Linked DNA regions of Homo sapiens. The protein of the gene in region 1 purifies or fractionates together with the protein of each later gene. This does not show direct contact. Each region holds a gene or a part of one and is shown on either strand. Other genes may lie near its edges. The genes, in order: CUEDC2 and KHK.

Evidence for each region.
Region 2: the proteins of CUEDC2 (region 1) and KHK purify together in Homo sapiens (affinity purification with mass spectrometry; 2 studies listed by BioGRID and IntAct, with this or other methods). This does not show direct contact.

The regions. Positions count from the first base shown.
Region 1 is NC_000010.11:102,428,740-102,438,404, reverse strand, and holds the start of CUEDC2 (CUE domain-containing protein 2), read left to right. Parts: upstream 1-5,830; 5' UTR 5,831-5,879; intron 5,880-9,665.
Region 2 is NC_000002.12:27,088,980-27,098,713, reverse strand, and holds part of KHK (ketohexokinase), read right to left. Parts: intron 6,383-9,734; coding exon 6,266-6,382; intron 4,241-6,265; coding exon of another isoform or gene 4,103-4,240; intron 3,915-4,102; coding exon 3,780-3,914; intron 1,986-3,779; coding exon 1,913-1,985; intron 1,212-1,912; coding exon 1,065-1,211; coding exon of another isoform or gene 651-1,064; exon of another isoform or gene 636-650; intron 1-635. UniProt on the Homo sapiens protein: Catalyzes the phosphorylation of the ketose sugar fructose to fructose-1-phosphate.

The DNA.
Region 1 (9,665 bases):
CAATTTACATTATGCTGGGAAACCAGAGCCATCAAGAAGGAGTGCTTCACCGGAGCTCAAACTGTAGGCAGGAATCCAGGACTCTTAGCTCCCAGCGGGGCCTGGGCCTCCAAGCCCTGACCTGATGGCCTCCTCCTCCTGGCCCTGCCCCAGCCTTACCTGTCGCCCAATCCATTTTGTCAGGACCCCCTCAGTCAACAAGCCCTGACTGACCAATTTCAAGCCCTCCTCCACCCCGCAATGACCTTACCTTTGTCTGGCTCACATTCTACTCAAGGGAATAAAATAGGAATCATAACATTACATACTTATGAGAACTTGCTCTATGCCAGGCACCACGTTAAAACCCTGAACAGAAACTATCAACACATTTAATTTAATCTTCACAAAACCTTGATGTGGATATAATTACATCCCATGGATGCAATTATCATTCCCATTTGCAGATGAGAAAACTGAGGGCCATTGATGTTAACAACTTACCCAAGGCTATACCCCAAGAATGTCCCTGGGAAATTTGATTGTAATTTTCTTATCTTTTTTTTTTTCTTTTCTTTTCTTTTTTTTTTTTTTTTTTTCTTTTTGAGAGAGAGACAGGGTCTTGCTCTGTGGCCCAGGCTGGAGTGCAGTGGTATGATCTTGGCTCACTGCCACCTCTGCCTCTCAGGCTCAAGCCATCCTCCCATCTCAGCCTCCTGAGTAACTGAGACTATAGGCACGCATCACCATGCCTGGCTAACTGATCGCAGTCTTAACCTGTAGGTCAAACTGTCTCTTCATACAGGAGACAAACTCAACAAAAATGCAAGGAATATTTATTGAACAGCTACTATATGCTGGACGCTGGACTAGACCCTACAGGGCTCATGAAGAGGGGTGTGGAGGATCTGTAAGAGATCATATGCACTGTTGGGGAGTTGAGAGAGGCTTCTTGGAAAAGGCATCTGGCTGGGCACAGTGGCTCACGCCTGTAATCCCAGCACTTTGGTAGGCCAAGGCAGGCGGATCACCTGAGGTCGAGAGTTCAAGAGCAGCCTGGCCAACCTGGTGAAACCCCATCTCTACTAAAAATAAAAAATCAGCCAGGCGTGGTGGTGTGTGCCTATAATCCCAGCTACTTGGGAGGCTGAGACAGGAGAATCACTTGAACCCGGGAAGCAGAGGTTGCAGTGAGCCGAGATTGCACCACCACACTCCAGCCTGGGCAACAGAACAAGACTCCGTCTCCAAAAAAAAAAAAAAAAAAAAAAAAATTAGCCAGGTGTGTTGGCACACGCCTGTAGTCCCAGCTACTCGGGGAGGCTGAGGCAGGAGAATCACTTAAACCTGGGAGGTGGAGGTTGCAGTGAGCTGATATTGCGCCACTGCACTCCAGCCTGGGCCACAGAATGAGACTCCATCCCAAAAAAAATAAATAAAAAGGAAAAAAGAAGAGGCATCTGAGAGAGGCTTTGAAGAATGTCCAGGATTCCAACAGACAGTGACAGGCAAGAGGTGTCCCCAGGAGCACTGAGGAAGGACCAGCATGAGAAGTGTGGAGCCGGAGCAGCAGGGGTTCACTAGTGGCAGGTTATGAGCAGGATGCGATGGAAGATCAGGCGTGAAAGCTAAGTGGAGGCCGTACTATAGAAGACTTTCTGGCAGGGTAAAGAGATTTGGGAGAGCCCCTGACGTCTTTGAGCATAAGAGTAGCCCGAGTCAAAGTTATTTAAAGGTTTGGCCAGTGGGCAAGATGTGGGCCTGCAGAAGCACCTGGCTGGGAAGTTGGGAGCCCAAACCATCAGCTGCCCCACGGCCTTGGCATTGATGTTGTAGCACTGCCGGGCACCAGAACTGAGTCCACAGGGCATTGCTAGAGCTCACAGCCTATGGAATTCAGTTCTCAGTGCCAGGTGGCCAAAGTTCTTTCAGCCTGGACGCTGCTCTTGCATGCTTTCTTCTGTGAATCGTCTCCCGTTCCCAGGATGAGTAAGTTGAGGCCCAGGATGGGTCACATAAGGAACTTGTGATACCAAGAGAACTCCTATTCCAGGGAGGGTCTGAGCTTGGAGCTGAAAATGGGGGCCCACAGCTAAGGAAATGGACAGGAGTTCCATAAATTCCAACAGGAATTGGAGTAGGTTAAGAGGGGAGGGGGCTCAGGGCCATGGCAGGGATCCATCTGTCGCTTCCTGCCCAGATGTGTTCCTGGTGGGGCCTGATGTGGGGCTGGAGGGGTGAGGGGCTGGGGAAAGAGCCAGAACACGCACACTGAGAAGGGCATCTCTATGCAAACCAAGGGGCTTTCTGAGCTAAAGGGAGTCCCCAAGATATGGATCCCCAAGATAGGAGCCCAGCCCAGGAGTCCTAGCTCCCCAGAAATCTCCCCAAAACCCTGAATAAAGATTTGAAGTACCTGGGATAGTGGAGTGGAGGAGAAAGAGTTCCCTGAAGCACACTTTCATTTTCTGGAGAGTTCAGCCGAGGGCTGGGTGCTCCCCTCACTCACATGGCAAAGCTGCAGCCTATCCCAGAGAGGGAAAGCCAAGCCTGCGCCTCAGGGGCACCCCATCCCGACCCCTGCTTGAATCCAGAGAGAGGGACAGCCACTTACCCACGAAACCTCCTCTCTATGGCTCCTGGGGCTGGATCTGCAACGATGTTCTCAGCCGGTGCTCCTTAAATAAGGCCCCCACCCCCGCCCCAGCCGCCTCCCGCCCCCGCCCCATGCTGGCTCTTCTGAGAAAGGAGGAAGGTGTGGGAGGGCCAGGAACCCTGCCCAGAGAGCCCTTTCTAACCTCAAGCCAGAGCGGGACCCCGCCCCCGCCATTCTTTGAAGCCTCCCCTTCCTCACCTTGGTCTCTAACTGAGTTCTTCCCACCCCTTGAGACCAGCCCGCTGGGCTCTCTCTCTACTCTGCCTGAAAAATCTGCCCTTTATGCCAAATTCAAGTCCAGTTTCTCATTTTGAAGCAGGATGATGGGGAATGGAGGTGCTAGGGGAAGCCTCAGCGTAGGTTTCTAGCTTTTCCCACCAGCTAAGGCGATCCAGGCACCCAAACACCAGCTGCAAAATTCACTGGAAGGAATGGCGGTGAAAAGGCATCCCTCTGCCTCCTTTAGCTCTGTGCCGCTTCAAGCAGTACCAAAGGGCAGTGGGGAGTCTGTTCCCATTTTGGGGAGAGAGAGACTGAGACCTGAGGGGAAAGAAAATCAGGGGCTGAAGTTCCAGCCAGCTTCAGAATCCCTCAGGGCAGGGATCCCGGGAGCCCCTACCTTACAGTATGTGTGTGTCCTTGTGTCTGTGGGGTTCCCTCTCCTCAGCCCACCTTCTGTCCTCGACCCCCCAGAACTTGACTCCTGCTGCACAGAGCTGGGACTCCCCAGAGTTTGAGTTGGGAAAGGAGGGACTCCCCCTAAGAAGTCTTTTCCATCCTCCTCCCTTGAAAGCTCAGGAAGTTCTTTCTGATACCAAGTCACATGCAGCTGCCATCCAGCAAACAGGGGATAGGGGAGAGGGGAAGGCACACAGTCAGAAATGGCTTGCAGGGGTCTTGGGCCAGAACTCAGGGCAGCTCTACTGAGGAAACTTGAAAGTTCCGGGAATGGAGGGTGGTAGGGAGAGAAGAGTCATCAGTATTGTGCAATGGACAGGGGGAAGCAGGAAAGGGGACGGGGGAGGAAAGGGATGGCTGGTCTCTGGAGGACAGGCAAAGGCCTGGGGCTGTGGGCTGCCCATCACCCCCTTCCTAGGGGCCTGCCCGGCCAGAGTTCAAAGTCGCTGTCACCCCACCCCTCATTAACCCTAGTATCACCAGGCTGGAGTGGCAGTGTTTTTATGGGCAAAGCGACGCGAATGTGCCCCTTCCTTCCCTGCTACCTCCCCCAAGCAGCCAACATCTTGCTGTCTCTGAGGCCAGAAGAGGAAGGAGGCTGTTGTGAGGACCAGAGGTGGAAGAGAAAGCAATAAGCAGTCATCCCGTTTTCTCCATAGTTTCTTCTTCTTCCTTCTCCTTCTTTTCTTCTTCTTTTTTTTTTTTTTTTTTTTTTTTGAGACAGGGTCTTGCTTTGTCACTCAGGCTGGAGTGCAGTAGCACAATCACGGCTTACTGCAGCCTTGACCTCTGGGGCTCAAATGATCCTCCCACCTCAGTCTCTGGAGTAGCTGGGACTACTGGCGTGTGTCACCATGCCCAGATAATTTTTTATTTTTTAAATTTTTTGTAGAGACGAGGTTTTGCCATGTTGCCCAGGCTGGTCTCAAATTCCTGGGCTCAAGCGATCCTCCCACCTCAGCCTTGCAAAGTGCTAGAATTACAGGTGTGAGCCACTGCAGCATAGTATCTTGGCACTGCCTTAGTCCCTAGGAGAGAGGAAAGATGGGACTTCTCTCTTGGACTGTGAGCTCCCTGAGGGCAGGGACAGCTTCCGGGTCCCCAGCACCCCACGAAGGAACTAGCACTAAAAAGGGCTCATCCCTGCTGATGGGGGATGGGAAATTTTATCCTTGAAGGGGACTCTTCCCCTTGTGACCCATTTCAGGGTTCCCAAGAGGGGAGGGCTGTGGGGCTTCCCCACAGGGCAGCACCGGGAATCTGTGGCAGCAGGAACAAAAAGAGGAAGTTGAAGTCTTGTTGGGCCCTGGAGTTCAGCTCTCCTGTCCTAGACAAGCAGCCCTGCCAACATGGGGGATGAAGGCCCCGGGGGGTAGGCATGGTCTACAGGCTGTCCATGACAGGGCTCAGGTGGATCCTCATCCTGGCACCTGCTACCACTCCACCTCTCCCAGACCACGTCCAAAATCCCAGGCTCCACCCTCCGGAGACACAGACCTGTAGCTCACCCCAATCTAGGGGAGACATTGCTGTTAAGGGAATGCAAAAGGTACAGACAGGGTGGGGAAGTCAGTACCTAAGAGACCAGCCTGGGCCACGTGGCAAAAACCCTGTCTCTACAAAAAAAAAAAAAAAAAAAAAAATTAGCTCGGCGTGGTGGCACGCGCCTGTGGTTCCAGCTACTCCAGAGGCTGAGATGGGAGGATCACTTGAACCCAGGAGGTCGGGGCTGCAGTGAGCCATGTTCGCACTCGTGAACCTGCACTCCAGCCTGGGGCTGTAACAGCAAGAAAAGAAGAAAAAGAAAGAGAAGGAAGGAAGGGAGGGAGGGAAAGAAAGGAAAATAAAGAAAGAAGAAAAGAAAAGAGGCCAGGCGCGGTGGCTCATGCCTGTAATCCCAGCACTTTGGGAGGCCGAGGCAGGCGAATCACGAGGTCAGGAGTTTGAGACCAGCCTGGCCAACATGGTGAAACCCCGTTTCTACTAAAAATACAATAAATTATCTGGGCGTGGTGGCGCGCGCCTGTAATCCCAGCTACTCGGGAGGCTGAGGCAGGAGAATCTCTTGAACCCGGGAGGCGGAGGTTGCAGTGAGCCGAGATCGCGCCACTGCACTCCAGCCCGGGAGACAGTGCGAGGCTCCCTCCCAAAAAAAAAAAAGAAGAAGAAAAGGAAAAAAAAGTGAGAGAGAGAGAGAGAGAGAGACGAGAAAAAGAGAGAGAGAAAGAAAGAGAAAGGTTTCGGGTCTCTGACGGATGAGAAGGAACAAGACGGGGATGCAGTCCTACCCACTTCGACTCCACCCCCTCTCAAGACCTTCACGCCTAACGCCTCCCTACGCGCAACAAAACTGGCCGCCAAGGGAGCCCGTCCATAGCCCTGGGACGTTAGAGAATTAGAGCAGGAGCTCCGCCCTGTTGTGGGCAACTTGCCCTTCTCAAACATGGCCGCCACGGCGCCTCTGGAAGGGAACCGCTCTGGGCCCCGCCTTTGATCTCGTTGGTGGGGCTGGGGGATGAGAGCTGCACCGCGCGGGACAAGTCGCCGGCGGCGCCCGACGGAGCAGGTGATTTCCCCTCCTGCCCCCGGCCCAGGGCTAGGAGAGTCGCGGAGAGCGCTGACCCAGGGTACCCGTCCGATGTGTTCCCCCACGGTACCCCCCCCGGGGCCCGTCGGACCCCCATCTCTGATTCTCGCCGTGGCCTGTATCAAGGCACATCCAGTTTGCTCAGGCCTGCCTCGTCATGTGTCCTCCAAGGCCACAGCCGCATCCCTGTGCCTTCGGGCCCACTATTCTGGACGCTTACGGGTGTCCCGCTAGCGGGTTTAGGGAGCTGCTGCTTCAGGGGTCGTCCATCATCGCGGTCCCACTTCCTGTGCTCGCCCTCCCTGTTTGTGCTCCCGCCTGACTTTGGATGCAGGGATCCCTTGTTCCCCTCAATGCCCTTGGTGCCTCTAAGGTCTGACTTGGGTATCAGAGGACAATGATATCCTCTGGGGCCTGCGTTATGGGTCCAGGGCCTCAGGAACCGGGCTTCACAGGGGCTGGGAGAAGCAGTGAAGACCTTCCATGCTAGACCCCTTGCTGCCTCCCTGAGAAGTTCGCTAGGACTCCTTTCACACTAGCTCCCAGGATTCCTCCTCCCACATGGCCTGCTCTCCCTCCACTTTAAGCACCTCCCCACCCCAAGGGAGCAGCATAGTACTTCTTACCCCACTCTCACTTAAATTTGTCCACAGTGTCTCTATCTAGCATCTGGAGGGTCCAGGCCTGTGCTGCCCTTGGGAAGCTCCCAGGCTAGCTGGGAGCAGTGAAGGTGGGGCAGTTAGGGTTGGCTGCAGAAAGGGAGTCCTGCAGAATGAGATTTGGAGAGGCAGAGGGACAGATGCTCTGGGCTGGGAGAGTGGTGTGAGCAAAGATTCTGAAATAGACAATATAGCCAGCCAGGCAGGAGAGGAGATTCAGAATATAGGATGGGGCCACACAATTTGCATCGTGAGAGGTGATGTAGTGTGGTGGTTAACAGTGAGGGTTCTGGATCCAGACAGCCTGGGTGTAAATCTGCCATTAACTTGCCTTGTGACCTTGGGCAAGTTACTTAACCTCATAGTGCCTTCATTTCCTTTCAGGTAAAATGTGGATAATACGGCCGGGCGCGGTGGTTCATGCCTGTAATCCCAGCACTTTGGGAGACCGAGGCGGGTGGATTGCCTGAGGTCAGGAGTTCGAGACCAGTCTGGCCAACATGGTGAAACCCCGTCTCTACTAAAAAATACAAAATAAATTTGCCAGGCATGGTGGCATGCGACTGTAATCCCAGCTACTCAGGAGGCTGAGGCAGGGGAATTGCTTGAACCAGGGAGGTGGAGGTTGCAGTGAGCTGAGATCGCACCACTGCACTCCAGCCTGGATGGCAGAGCGAGACTCCGTCTCAAAAATACATAAATAAATAAAATAAATAAAATAAAATGGGGAGAATAACAGTATCTACATTTTAGAGTTATTGTAAGGATTAGGTAAGTTAATACATGTAAAAGTGCTTAGGACAATGCCTCGTAAGCAGAGGCAATAAATGCTAATATTACCATCATCGGAGGCATTTAGGCAGGACTCATGACAGGATGACAGTCACATTTGGTAGACACCATCAACCAATGATCTCTAATTTGCGGCCCCCAAGAAGCAATGGGGTTCTGTGGGCTACATCTGGAATTTGAAATGTCTCATGGAAATCATGTTCTTACCCTGGAGAAGGGTGGCTGCTTAGGTGCTACTTAGGAAACCAGTCTGGCAGACCAGATCTTCCCCAACTCAGGGGCTATGCGGGGAGAAGTATTAGGAGCCCCTGAGCAGGAAGGATGTACTTAGGAAGGCTACCGGGGATGGGGAAGGGTAAAAGAGCTTAGAAGCCTGGGTGAAGTTTGGGTAGACCAAAAACAGGAGGAGGGAGGGAGGATGTTCCCTTGGAATACAAACTAGAGAAAAGCTTAGGGGAGCAAGTCTTTTTATTTGGGGACAGTGAAGAGTTTCCTAAAAATTCCCTGGCCCCCAGGCCTTGGCTAAAAACCCAGAAGCATGAGACACATCCCTGAGAAGCTTCTTCCCTAGAAACTGGGCTCTCAGGCCGGGCACGGTGGCTCACGCCTATAATCCCAGCACTTTGGGAGGCCTAGGCGGGCAGATCACCTGAGGTCGGGAGTTCGAGACCAGCCTGACCAACATGGAGAAACCCTGTCTCTACTAAAAATACAAAATTAGCCGAGCATGGTGGCACATGCTTGTAATCCCAGCTACTCAGGAGGGCTGAGGCAGGAGAATCGCTTGAACCCAGGAGGTGGAGGTTGCGGTGAGCCAAGATCGCGCCATTGCACTCTAGCCTGGGCAACAAGAGTGAAACTCTGTCTCAAAAGTAAAATAAATAAATAAATAAATAAATAAATAAAATTAAAAAAAAAAAAAGAAAACCTGGGCTTTCAGCCAAGTTTCAGTCACCACCACACAGGTGGCTCATGCCTGTAATCCCAGCACTTTGGGAGGCCAAGGTGGGCAGATCACCTGAGGTCAGGAGTTCGAGACCAGCCTGGCCAACATGGTGAAACCCCGTCTCTACCAAAAATACAAAAAATTAGCTGGGCGTTGTGGCAGGCGCCTGTAATCCCAGCTACTCAGGAGGCTGAGGCAGGAGAATTGCTTGACCCTGTCAGGTTCACACCATTGCACTCCAGCCTGGGCAACAAGAGCGAAACTCCGTCTCAAAAAAAAAAAAAAAGAAAGAAACTGGGCTTTCATGCAGCAGCCATGGGCCTTTGTCCCGGCAGAGGCTACCATGCAACTGACAGCCCAGGATTCGAGGGTGATGTAACCCAGGGTCGAGGTAGGTCCCTGGAGGCGGTTCTACCCTGAGGGAGCTGCATGATGGGATCTAGTATGCCTGGGCTGAGCCATTCTGCTCTTCCTCAGGGCCCATGAGGGCTCTGGCGCAGGTGGTATGAATTCCCCTGGTAGGCTGGGGCTTCTCAGTCCTGCTTTCCAAAGTGACCCCTGTGCTATGAGCAACTCTGTTACCACTCGGGACCAGGCAACTGTAAGCATAGAAGGTAGCCCTGTCCCAACCCACTTGAAAGTCTTGATATCCTCCCTTCCCCAGAGTAGCCCCTAGAATAGATGCTGAACTAGGTGACCTGGATTTAAATCTGACTACCGCAGTCAAGCCAGGTGACTCTGGGCAAGTCATTAAACACACTGAACTTCATTTCTTCATAGGTAAATTGGGGTTCAACTGTTTATTGAGTGCCCACTTCATGAGAGATGCTGAGTATACACTGGTGAATGTCAGCCCGGTGTTTAGTCCCTGCTTCATGAGACAACTGGAAGAAACATTAAACATTGTCCAAATAATAATTATGGCTGTGAAAGGTGCTGCTAGTCAGAAAACTTGCAGCCTGCATAGAGAGTGTAATATGGCAGGGCCCAAATGAGTTCTAGGTCAGGGGTGATGTCCCTTGAGGAAGAAGGGAATTATTTTATTTTTATTTGAAAATATTTTTCTTTTCTTTTTTTTTTTTTTTTGAGACAAAGTCTCACTCTGTCGTCCAGGCTGGAGTGCAGTGGTGCAATCTCGGCTCACTGCAACCTCCGCCTCCCAGGTTCATGTCATTCTCCTGCCTCAGCCTCCTGAGTAGCTGGGACTACAGGCGCGTGCCACCACACCCAGCTAATTTTTGTATTTTTAGTAGAGACGGGGTTTCACTGTGTTAGCCAAGATGGTCTTGATCTCCTGACCTCGTGATCCAACCCCCTGGGTCTCCCAAAGTGCTGGGATTACAGGCATGAGCCTCCGTGCCTGGCCTA
Region 2 (9,734 bases), on another chromosome or scaffold:
GGTATGGTTTCTTCATCTGGAAAACAAAGAGGCTCCCTCAACACTACCTACACTTTAGAATCTCCAGAGAAAGTTTTGGTAAAAACAAAAAACAAAACACCGAAGCCTTGGCTCTACCCCTGCCAATCAAAAACAAGATGGTGGGGCTCAGGCACTGCAATCCTCCTGCCTCAGCCTCCTGAGTAGCTGGGACTATGGGTGCACACCACCATGCCAGGAATTTTTTTTTTTTTTTTTTGTATAGAGACAGGGTCTTGCAATCTTGAATGACTGGCTGAAGTGATCCTCCTGCATTGGCCTCCCAAGGTGCTGGGATTACAGGTATGAGTCACTGCTCTTGGCCTAATTTATTTTCATAGAGACAGGGGTCTTGCTATGTTGTCCAGGCTGGTCTTGGACTCCTGGCATCAAGCAATCCTCCTACCTCAGCTTCCCAAAGCTCTGGGATTACAAGTGTGAGCCACTACACTTGGCCTGCATTCATCTTTTTTAATATGCAGCCAAGGTTGAGGACAAGTCACAAGGTTGAGGACCTTGGCTGGATGGTCTCCAACCAACTTCTGCTATGATGCTGGGATTACTTCCCAAATTCCATTTACATCCAGCCTTTTCAAAAAGAGACTCATGCAAGTCTCCTTCCCACCCTTCCCTCACCCTAGCAGCCCCCACAACCTGCCAGACACCCCTGAGTTGGAAGAAACCTCAGAGAACAGTTGTGTGCCCTCATTCTGCAGAGGAAAAGACTGGGGAGCCCCAGAGAGGAGATGCTTCCACACAGGCTTGCCCTGTGGCTGTTTAAGCCCTACCCAAGCCCTCTGGGCATTCTTACACCTATGCACCCACCTGGGGTGGAGACATTCTACTCCTTGCTCACTGCTGAGGCCTGCACTGGAGCCCAAGGCTAGGGGTCTACTTCTTTGCTTTAACCCCCATCCCCCATCTTCAAACACCACCAAACCAGGAACCACTATTCCAATTGTGGTAGGCAGGATAAAAGGATTCTGGCTCCCTTTAAGAACCAAATTAGCTGGAAGTGGCAAAGAGAGGCTGAATGGGGCACCCACCACGTCTCCGTAGCCAAACAGCTGGAAGAGCTCCTCTCGTGGCTTCTCCACCTCCACGGACACCCGGATCTTCTGCTCTGGAGGCTGCCTGGTGTTGTGTGCGTCTATCCGCTGCAGCATCTTCACCTGCTCCGATGCGTTCCGGCCCTGGTACAGGACAGGGCAGCTCAGGACCGCTGGGCACTGCCTGGCCAATCTGCCTCATTCTTCCTGCCCCGCTGAAACTCTGGGTGAGGAGGGAGAGGGCCTCGGGGAGGCTGGGCTAGAACCCCATCCTAAATTACAACATTCAGAGCTGTCGTGGACTTTGAAGACCTTATCAACCAGCTACTCCATTCCACAGATGAGAAGACTAAAGAATAAAAGATACTGTGAAAGACCTACCATAGGTTAAATGATGGAGCTAGAACTCAGGACTTCTCAGGATTTCCTTCCACCCAGACTCCAAAACCTCTCTTGGAGTAAAGGCTCTAGTTCCCTTTATTTGGGAGCTGAGTCAGGCCCTGTCCTTCCTGCTTCCCCAGAGGTAATGGGTCAGGCCCTAAGCAGTCAGACATCCGCCAGAGGCAGAGTTGGAGGCAATGGGGCAGCCCGTAGCACAGAAAGCACAGGACTTTGCCTGGAGCCAGCTGTGCTTACGTTCTGCTGTGTGACCTTGAGTAAGTCATCTAATCTTTCTGGGCCTTAGTTTTCTCACCTGAAGACATAAGGAAAGATGGAGAGAGAATGAGGGGGTTGGGTTCATTTATCTCTAAGGTACTTCATGATTCAAAGAAACCAAGGAGGCAGAACATGTGGAGGAGGCTGGCAGGTTGAGCCCCTTGAAACACAGGTAAGGCAGGGCTTACCTCAATGTGGATCCACTTGAACTGGGTCAGATCAACCTTCTCAAAGTCTGTAGCAGACACATCTGGCAGGCTCCTAGGTCACAGGATGGAAAAGACAGAGAAGAAGGAGCATGATGGGGTCAGGCAGAGCCAGGATCTCTAACTGGCAGCTGTGGACCCTGTGCCTGCACTGCTGGCAGCATGACAGGAAGCTGGATCCACAGCACAGGATTCTCAGGCTCAGCTCCAGGGTTGTCCCTGTTACAGTCTGCTGGGGTGCCCTTTCCTGAGTTTGAGGTTGTGATTAAATTATCTCGGTAAACTGAACTGCAACACATGTCAACTGGCAAGGTCTGTGTGCCTTGGAGACTGCATCTCCCAGAATGCACTGAGAGCGCCAAGCCTACACTTCCCAGAATCCCTTGCAGCAGCACACGGCTCCCACAGGCAGAGCCCTGGGAAAGTATAAAGCCCGCGACCCCCTGCCTGGGCTGTCTGGTCCCCCTCACTTCTGGCGCCCCAGCGTTGGGGTTTACCTATGGCACCCCTGTCCTGCGTTTAATAGCTCCCCGTTGCAACCCTGAGGTCAAGGTAGCACTTGAGGAAGAGTTTGTGTTTGGCCGGTTTAGGAAAGGGGACTCCCGATAGAGGTCTGCCTTGACCCTCCTGAGCCAGAGACCTCAACTCAGCCAAAGTCCCCGCTCCACGTTCTGTAGCCGAGTCCTTCCACTTAACTATAGCTGTGTGATCTGCCCGGGCCTTTGGGAGGCAACTTCCACATTGATAAATGGGGCTGAAACCCCCAGCCCCCTTGCAGCCTGCTGCAGTTGCAGGTAATGTGTGTGAATGTGCCTGGACTGAGGCCAGTGGGCAAGAAACATTTCTCCTCAGAGCTCCTCTCCTGTAAATAGCTATGTTGTGTCCTTGATCAGGGTTACTACGGATTGTTGCTTAACAAGCATTTGACTAGGATTGCCCAATGCGAAGGTCACCTGTAGCACATATGCCTGCCTACTCACACTCACTGCACATATGAAGCCCAGGGATGGCTGCCCCTCCTCCAGGTCCGGCAGTCAGGCTGGGCCGTAGGAACAGCCTGAACCTGAGGGCTGCTGGGCTTGGGCCCTCTCAGCCATAACAGTACCTGGCACGTACTAGGTTCTTAGTACACTAAACCTCTAAAATCCTGCAGGAGGGAGTCTGCAAGGGATAAGAAGTGTCTAGGCCCATGGGGCCTCTCTTGAGTGGCCTGGGACCCTGAAGGGAGGGATAGCCCCTTCCCCCAGGTCAGCACCATGTTAGATGACCCTGATCTGCTGACCCCATGTTTCCTTTCCCCTCCTTCAGCAATGGCTGTGAATGGTGTGTGGCCTGGCTTCATCATGCTGGAAACTTTGGGGGGCTGATCTCTTTTACACACCCAAACCCCAGCTCCTTGGTGCCATGCTGCAGGCTGGCAACTCTGGGGCTGACTTTGGAAATCCCAGTGGGCACCCCCCCACAGCCCTTCTTAAGAAGGGTTGAATCCCATCTCCCACCCTTCTGTCCTGAGAACAGTTTCCCCGCACCCACAGCCAAGCTGCTGATTAACGATTTAATAATTATGGAGGAATCACTTAATAAATTACAGTTTATATAGGCCTGCCTGCCCTTCTTTGGTGTTGACCAAGGCCAAGTCACCAGGCACAGCAAAGCCCATCCCTTCCCACCTCACTTTTCCCCTAATTGAAAGCAATTAGGAAATCACTGGACATTTTGGCAGGGGAGCAACTTCTGGTACACAGAAGCCACAGAGGGGGGCAGTTGGGATGCCCATGGTGGCGAGTGAGGGAACTGATTGAGCCAACTGATTGGTGGGTTGTAGCAGGGCGAGGCCCGGGGGCCTTACGTGTCATGGAGCACAATGGTACGGTTGCCATTGGAGTTGTTGATGATGCAGCAGGAGCTGGGGGTGTCCCCCTTGCTCTGCCAGGCCACCTGAGACACGTCCACGCCCCGCCGCCTGAAGTCGGCCACCAGGAAGCTTAGGGTGGAGGCCGGGCCAGGAAAAGGGCAAGGAGACACAGATTAGAGCCTGGAAGTGGTCTGGACCTCCAAAAGGAGTGGGGAGAGGGTGCTGGAGCACACGAGCCTCTAAGAGAAGAAGAGTCCTGTTCTGGGAGTTTTGGTGGCGGCGGCAGCAGCTGGCAAGGCACAGACAGTTGTACAAACCTGTCATAGTATAGGATGGTGCGGCTACCACTGGCCTCGTTGATGATGACCGTGGCGATGGGGACGGAGCCTGTGGTCTGAAAGACTGTGTAGCGTAGGTCCACAGAATAGCGGCGGAGGTCATCCAGGACAAAACTGCTAGGGCGGAGTAACCCGAAGGGGGTGCAGTTCGACAAGGGTTTTGGGGACTGGAGGGTAGCTGGCAGGGCCACTAGGGACCCTGAAAGGCAGGGGTGCAAGCAAAGGGGGCTGGGAGAGAACTGGGAATCACAGTCTTGCCACAGGCAGTGCAACAGGGCAGGAGATGCAGGAGTGCAGAGCCTGGAGCTCAGAGAGAGAAACACTAAGGGCCATCCTTTTAGGTCTTGGCTGAAGCATGCTCCGATCCTGACTCTGTTTTTCAGTCCAACTCATGCTGGAAAGGATTTGCTCCTGTTCATAAAGCTAGACAGGACCCTAGAACCTGTACACTGTTTGAACCAAGCATGTGGGGGCACCGTGGCTTGTTTCCTGCAATGCCCAAACAGGATTAATAATTAATCTCCAAGGCAATACTTTGCCCCCAGCTGTCCTCCACAAGCTCATCCAGGGTGCTGTCCTCTCTCAGTCCCTCCCAGTCCTAATGCTGTGATTCCTCTCACTCTCTGCCTGCCTCCAGGAGGCCCAGCCTGGAAGTGGTGCTGCCTTGGTGAGCCAGCTCACTGCTTTGTCCTCCTGCAGCCAGGTGAACCCTCCTGGGCAATCAGCTGGCTCCCCGTGCCTGATGCCACTCAGTATGGGCCTGGTCCAGAACTCTCTCCTGGAATGCCCTCCATGCAGAGTGAGCCCAGGGGCAAGGACAAGGAGGTCAGCCCCAGCCCTTCCAGCCCTCTATGGACAGGCATTGTTCTGTGCTCAAGAACTGGCAATTATGCCCAGCAGTCCAGCCACCATCCTGGCTTTTCTCACCTGGCCAGAGCCCGCTTTCAGCAACACCAAAGCTGGATAATACAGATTTGCATAAAGATACCAAGTCAGGGCATCATCCCTTGACTTACAACTCCTTTAAATAGTAACTTTCCCAAAGCATTGGAAATATGGTTTGGTTTGCCAAATAACTTTCGCACCCCAGTGCCTGGGACATGGTAGGTGCTCTCTAAATGTTTGTCGAGCACATGGGGAGAATTCTGAATAAACCACCCATTGGCCTGATTGCTATGTAAAGGAGAGTCGACCATCCTAAGCCAGAGCCACAGTCCTGCCTCTAGCTCAGAGGAAAGGAGCTATTAAAGAGGTTTAATGAGTCACCAGCCCTTGGTTCTGAGCCGTCCTGTCCCATCTCACAGGGCAGATTCTCTCCCTCTATTCTCTTCCTGCCAGTTCATCAAGGCAGGGAGTTTGGCTGTAGCTCAGGTGGTTGGACTCTGCCAGCAGCCCCCTTCAAACCAGGGTTCAAAGGGCTGCCCTTCACAGGCCAGCAACCTGGCAGCCTGCCCCCGTGCCCACAGTGTGCAAAGTGTGGGCCTCACCTCCCGATAAGTGCTTGCTGAGTCGGCAGCGCCAGGGGTCAAAGGGCTCTGAGGTCCCTGCAGCAGCCAACATGGAGGGCGTGCATGAGCCATTTAGGGCTATAGCCCTGACAGCCGGGGAACTGGGAGGTGTGGGTTCTGAGCCCAGCTTTAGCATGTGGCTTCAGGGTGTCCTTGAACAGGGTACTCTCACTGCTTCAGTGAACAACAGGGACATGAGCACCAGCCCTGCCTCTCAACTGGGACAGAAACTGTGGGCCTGGACCTGGGGGAGGATGGGTACCACGTGTCCCTAACTGCCTTCTGCCTCAAGCATGGCCAGGATAAGGGACTTAAGATAAGGCAAAGGCACATCCACCGCAGAGTCTGCAGGAAGCAAGGAAGGAGAAAGGAAGAGGCTGAAGCAGGCTCCAGAAGTGTCCAGGAAACAAGCTGTGGCAAGGAAAGCTTCACAGGGGCAGCATCAGCCCCCGAACCGCAGAGAGGCCACGCCAAGGCAGGGCTGGGCGTCTGGTGCTCCGCCATGCCCCCTCCCCGCGTTTCTGCTGGACACAACCCATTTCTAATCCCCCATCCACCCAGGGTGGATACATCCTTCTTCTCCCACAATGATGCAGGCAGGCCTTCCCCAGTGGGCTCTCCCTCCTGGACTTACTCAGCAACATGGCCAGGAGCCATTGAGCCCATGAAGGCACAGGGGGCTCCGAGCAGGGAGAGAACGGTGCAGGAGTTGGACGCGTTGCCTCCGCGCTGCCATCTCTGGGACAAACACCTGCAAAGCACAGGGAGGGTCCCTGCAGCCCCAGCAGGCTGATCCCAAGCACAGTCTCCTGTATAGGGGCCTACAGAATGTAACAGCTGGGGACTCCTCTCAGAAAGCATCTAGGCCGACGTCTCACTTTGTACCCGGGGCAGCCGAGGCCGGCCAAGGGAAGGAGCTTGGCTGAGAGCGGTGTCTACCTCCCCAGCCCAGGCTAAATTCAAGCTGACAGCAGTTCCTTTCAATATTTCCATCTGTTCCTAGGGCAACAGGAAACCACTCACTTGGGTCCATCACTATTCGAGAGACCCACTAACTCCAGGTCATCTCCTCCTCACCTTTCACCCCAGTCAGAGCTGCTCCAGACGCTGCACCTTTGGCCTCCTCCTTGAGAGCTGGAGCAACTCCAAGGACCTCGGGGACTAAGTGCCTCTTCCCAAAGGTATCACATTTACACCTACCCCTGTGTTAGGAGTGTCTACTTCAATAGAAACTGCAGAGCTATAAAATCAAACGAGTAAGACAGGACAGCAAACCTGGACGTTGGTCGTTTAAGAAGTGGCAGCAGGGAGCACTTCTCCATCTTTACTAAAAACCAACCAAAAGGAAACTAACAAGACACACGTGAAGGGCTTCATTGTCATCAGCAGCAAAAATGATAACTTCCACATAGAGGGTCAACGCACTGATCCCCTCACAGTGTTACTGGAGCCCAAATGAGAAATCATTAATGAATGTTATTACCTTTGAGGTAAGAATGGTGGTGTTATTTCTATTGTGCCAGTTCCAATAATAATAATAATTGTGGCAGTTTACAATAAAAGGAACAGTACCAAAGAACCACGAATTAAGAGAAAAAACCGAACCAGAATTTTTAGGCCAAAGCATATTTGTACGCGAAACTTCAGTTTTGGGAAAAGGGGAGCACGATGTCATTAGAAAAAAAATGATAGTAGGACAGGCACAGTGGCTTATGCCTATAATCCCAGCACTTTGGGAGGCCAAAGCAGGAGGATCACTTGAGCCCAGAAGTTCGAGACCAGCCTGGGCAACCAAAGGGAGCTCTTGTCTCTAAAAAAAAAAAAAAAATTAAAAATTAGCTGGGTATGGTGGTGCATACCCGTGGTCCCAGCTACTCAGGAGGCTGAAGTTGGGGGAGCGTATGAGCCCGGGAGGTTTAGGCTGGGGTGAGCCATGATACTGCACTCCAGCCTGGGTGGCAGAGTGAGATCCTGTCTCAAAAACAACAATAACAACAATGACAAAGGATAGTAATTTTTTTGTTTTTTTGAGACAGAGTCACTCTGTCACCCAGGCTGGAGTGCAATGGCATGATCATGGTTCACTGCAGCCTCAACTTCCCCAGCTCAACTGATCCTCCCACCTTAGTCTCCCAAGTAGCTGGGATTATAGGTGTGCATCACCATGCCCCGCTAATTTAAAAAATTTTTTCGTAGAGATGGCATCTTCTTATGTTGCCCAGGCTGGTCCCGAACTCCTCGGCTCAAGCGATCCTCCTGCCTTGGCCTCCCAAAGTGCTGGGATTATAGGTATGAGCCACTGCACCCAGCTGGTCAAAGATTTTCAAGCTGGCCGGGCGCAGTGGCTCACGCCCATAATCTCAGCACTTTGGGAGGCTGAGGCGGGTGGATCACGAGGTCAGGAGTTCAAGACCAGCCTGGCCAAGATGTTGAAACCCTGTCTCTACTAAAAATACAAAAATGAGCCGGGTGTGGTGGCAGGTGCCTGTAATCCCTGCTACTCGGGAGGCTGAGGCAGGAGAATCTTTTGAACCCGGGAGGCAGAGGTTGCAGTGAGCCAAGATCATGCCACTGCACTCCAGCCTGGGTGACAGAGTAAGACTTTGTCTCCAAAAAAAAAAAAAAAAAAAGAAAGAAAAAAGAAAAAAAAGATTTTCAAGCTGAGCTTTACAGCTTTACAGAAATTTTTACGAAAAGATATGAAAAAAAAGGAGGAATCTCGAGGGATCTGACTTGATCAATAGTTAAGGACAAAGCTGATGTGGGAACCCAATTTCCTGACCCCAAAGCCATTGCTAATTACTCCGTATTTTAAAACTAAAAGTTGTTAGGCCCAAGCATTGAGGTTTCTAAGAAAGGATATAGAATTTTACTCTGGGGAAACCCTTCAAAGTCACACTGATATTTCCTGTGCAGAAATGCTCAGCTAAAGGCTGGGCGCGGTGGCTCACGCCTGTAATCCCAGCACTTTGGGAGGCTGAGGCAGGCGGATCGCCTGACGTCGGGAGTTCGAGACCATCCTGACCAACATGGAGAAACCCCATCTCTACTGAAAGTACAAAATTAGTTGGGTGTGGTGGCACATGCCTGTAATCCCAGCTACTCGGGATGCTGAGGCAGGAGAATTGCTTGAACTCTGGAGGCGGAGGTTGCAGTGAGCCAAGATCGCACCATTGCACTCCAGCCTGGGCAACAAGAGCAAAACTCCAACTCAAAAAATAAAAAAAAGGACACGTCCCAGGGGTCTGGCTGAGCTCCAGGTGGCGGCTCCCAAGAGTCCCCAACTGCCTGTCAAGCACAGAGACCCTAGGACAGGTGGGGCTGAGACACCCAGGAAGGACTGGGTCCCCACTCGGATGTGCTCCTCTGGGAGGCACAACAGTTCAGGAGCCAGGCTGCAGGGAACCAGGGCCATGGGGCTGCGGGGAAGGCATGGCCTGGAGTGCAGGAAGCATGATGGACATGGGAAGGGGCCCTTTAGAGAAGTGCCTCGCTCAGTGCCCACCTTCAGAACCTGCCCCATCAGTGTGGGTGCTAGCAGGACCTCCTTCTCCTACCTTCCCGACAGAATTAAGCTGAGAGGAAATGGGACTTCAGCTCTGACAGAAAGAGGCGCTGAGTCTTTTCCCAGGCTCTCCACGGTCCTTGGAGAACCTGTGGCCCTGGAATTTGCACTGTTGCCCTGAGATGAACCCAACTCCTCACTGAGTGCCATGTCCTGTGGCTGCCTCGACCTTGCACAGTGGGTTAGGTCTACACAGTGGCATGCCCGTGCCCCTTCCCCAGTCCCTGCACCCCTGGCAAGGGGCCCTAACCTCTGGCAAACCAAAGCAAAGGGTCAACTCCAAGAGATGGTCAACAGCAAAGGGACAGGGTATACAGGAGATGACAGAGGGCAGGGACCCTGGACTCCACACTAGGAGACTCGAGCTGCAGCTGCCACTGTGCCACCATTTAACTCCGTGGCCTTAAAAAACATCTCCAAATCTTCAGCTTCCTTATCTGTATAAAGGATTTCACTGATCTTTACACAGTTCCCATGGGCTGCTGGGAGGAGAGTATAAAATAATATATGTGATGGTGCTTTGTGGCCCCAAAGCCTG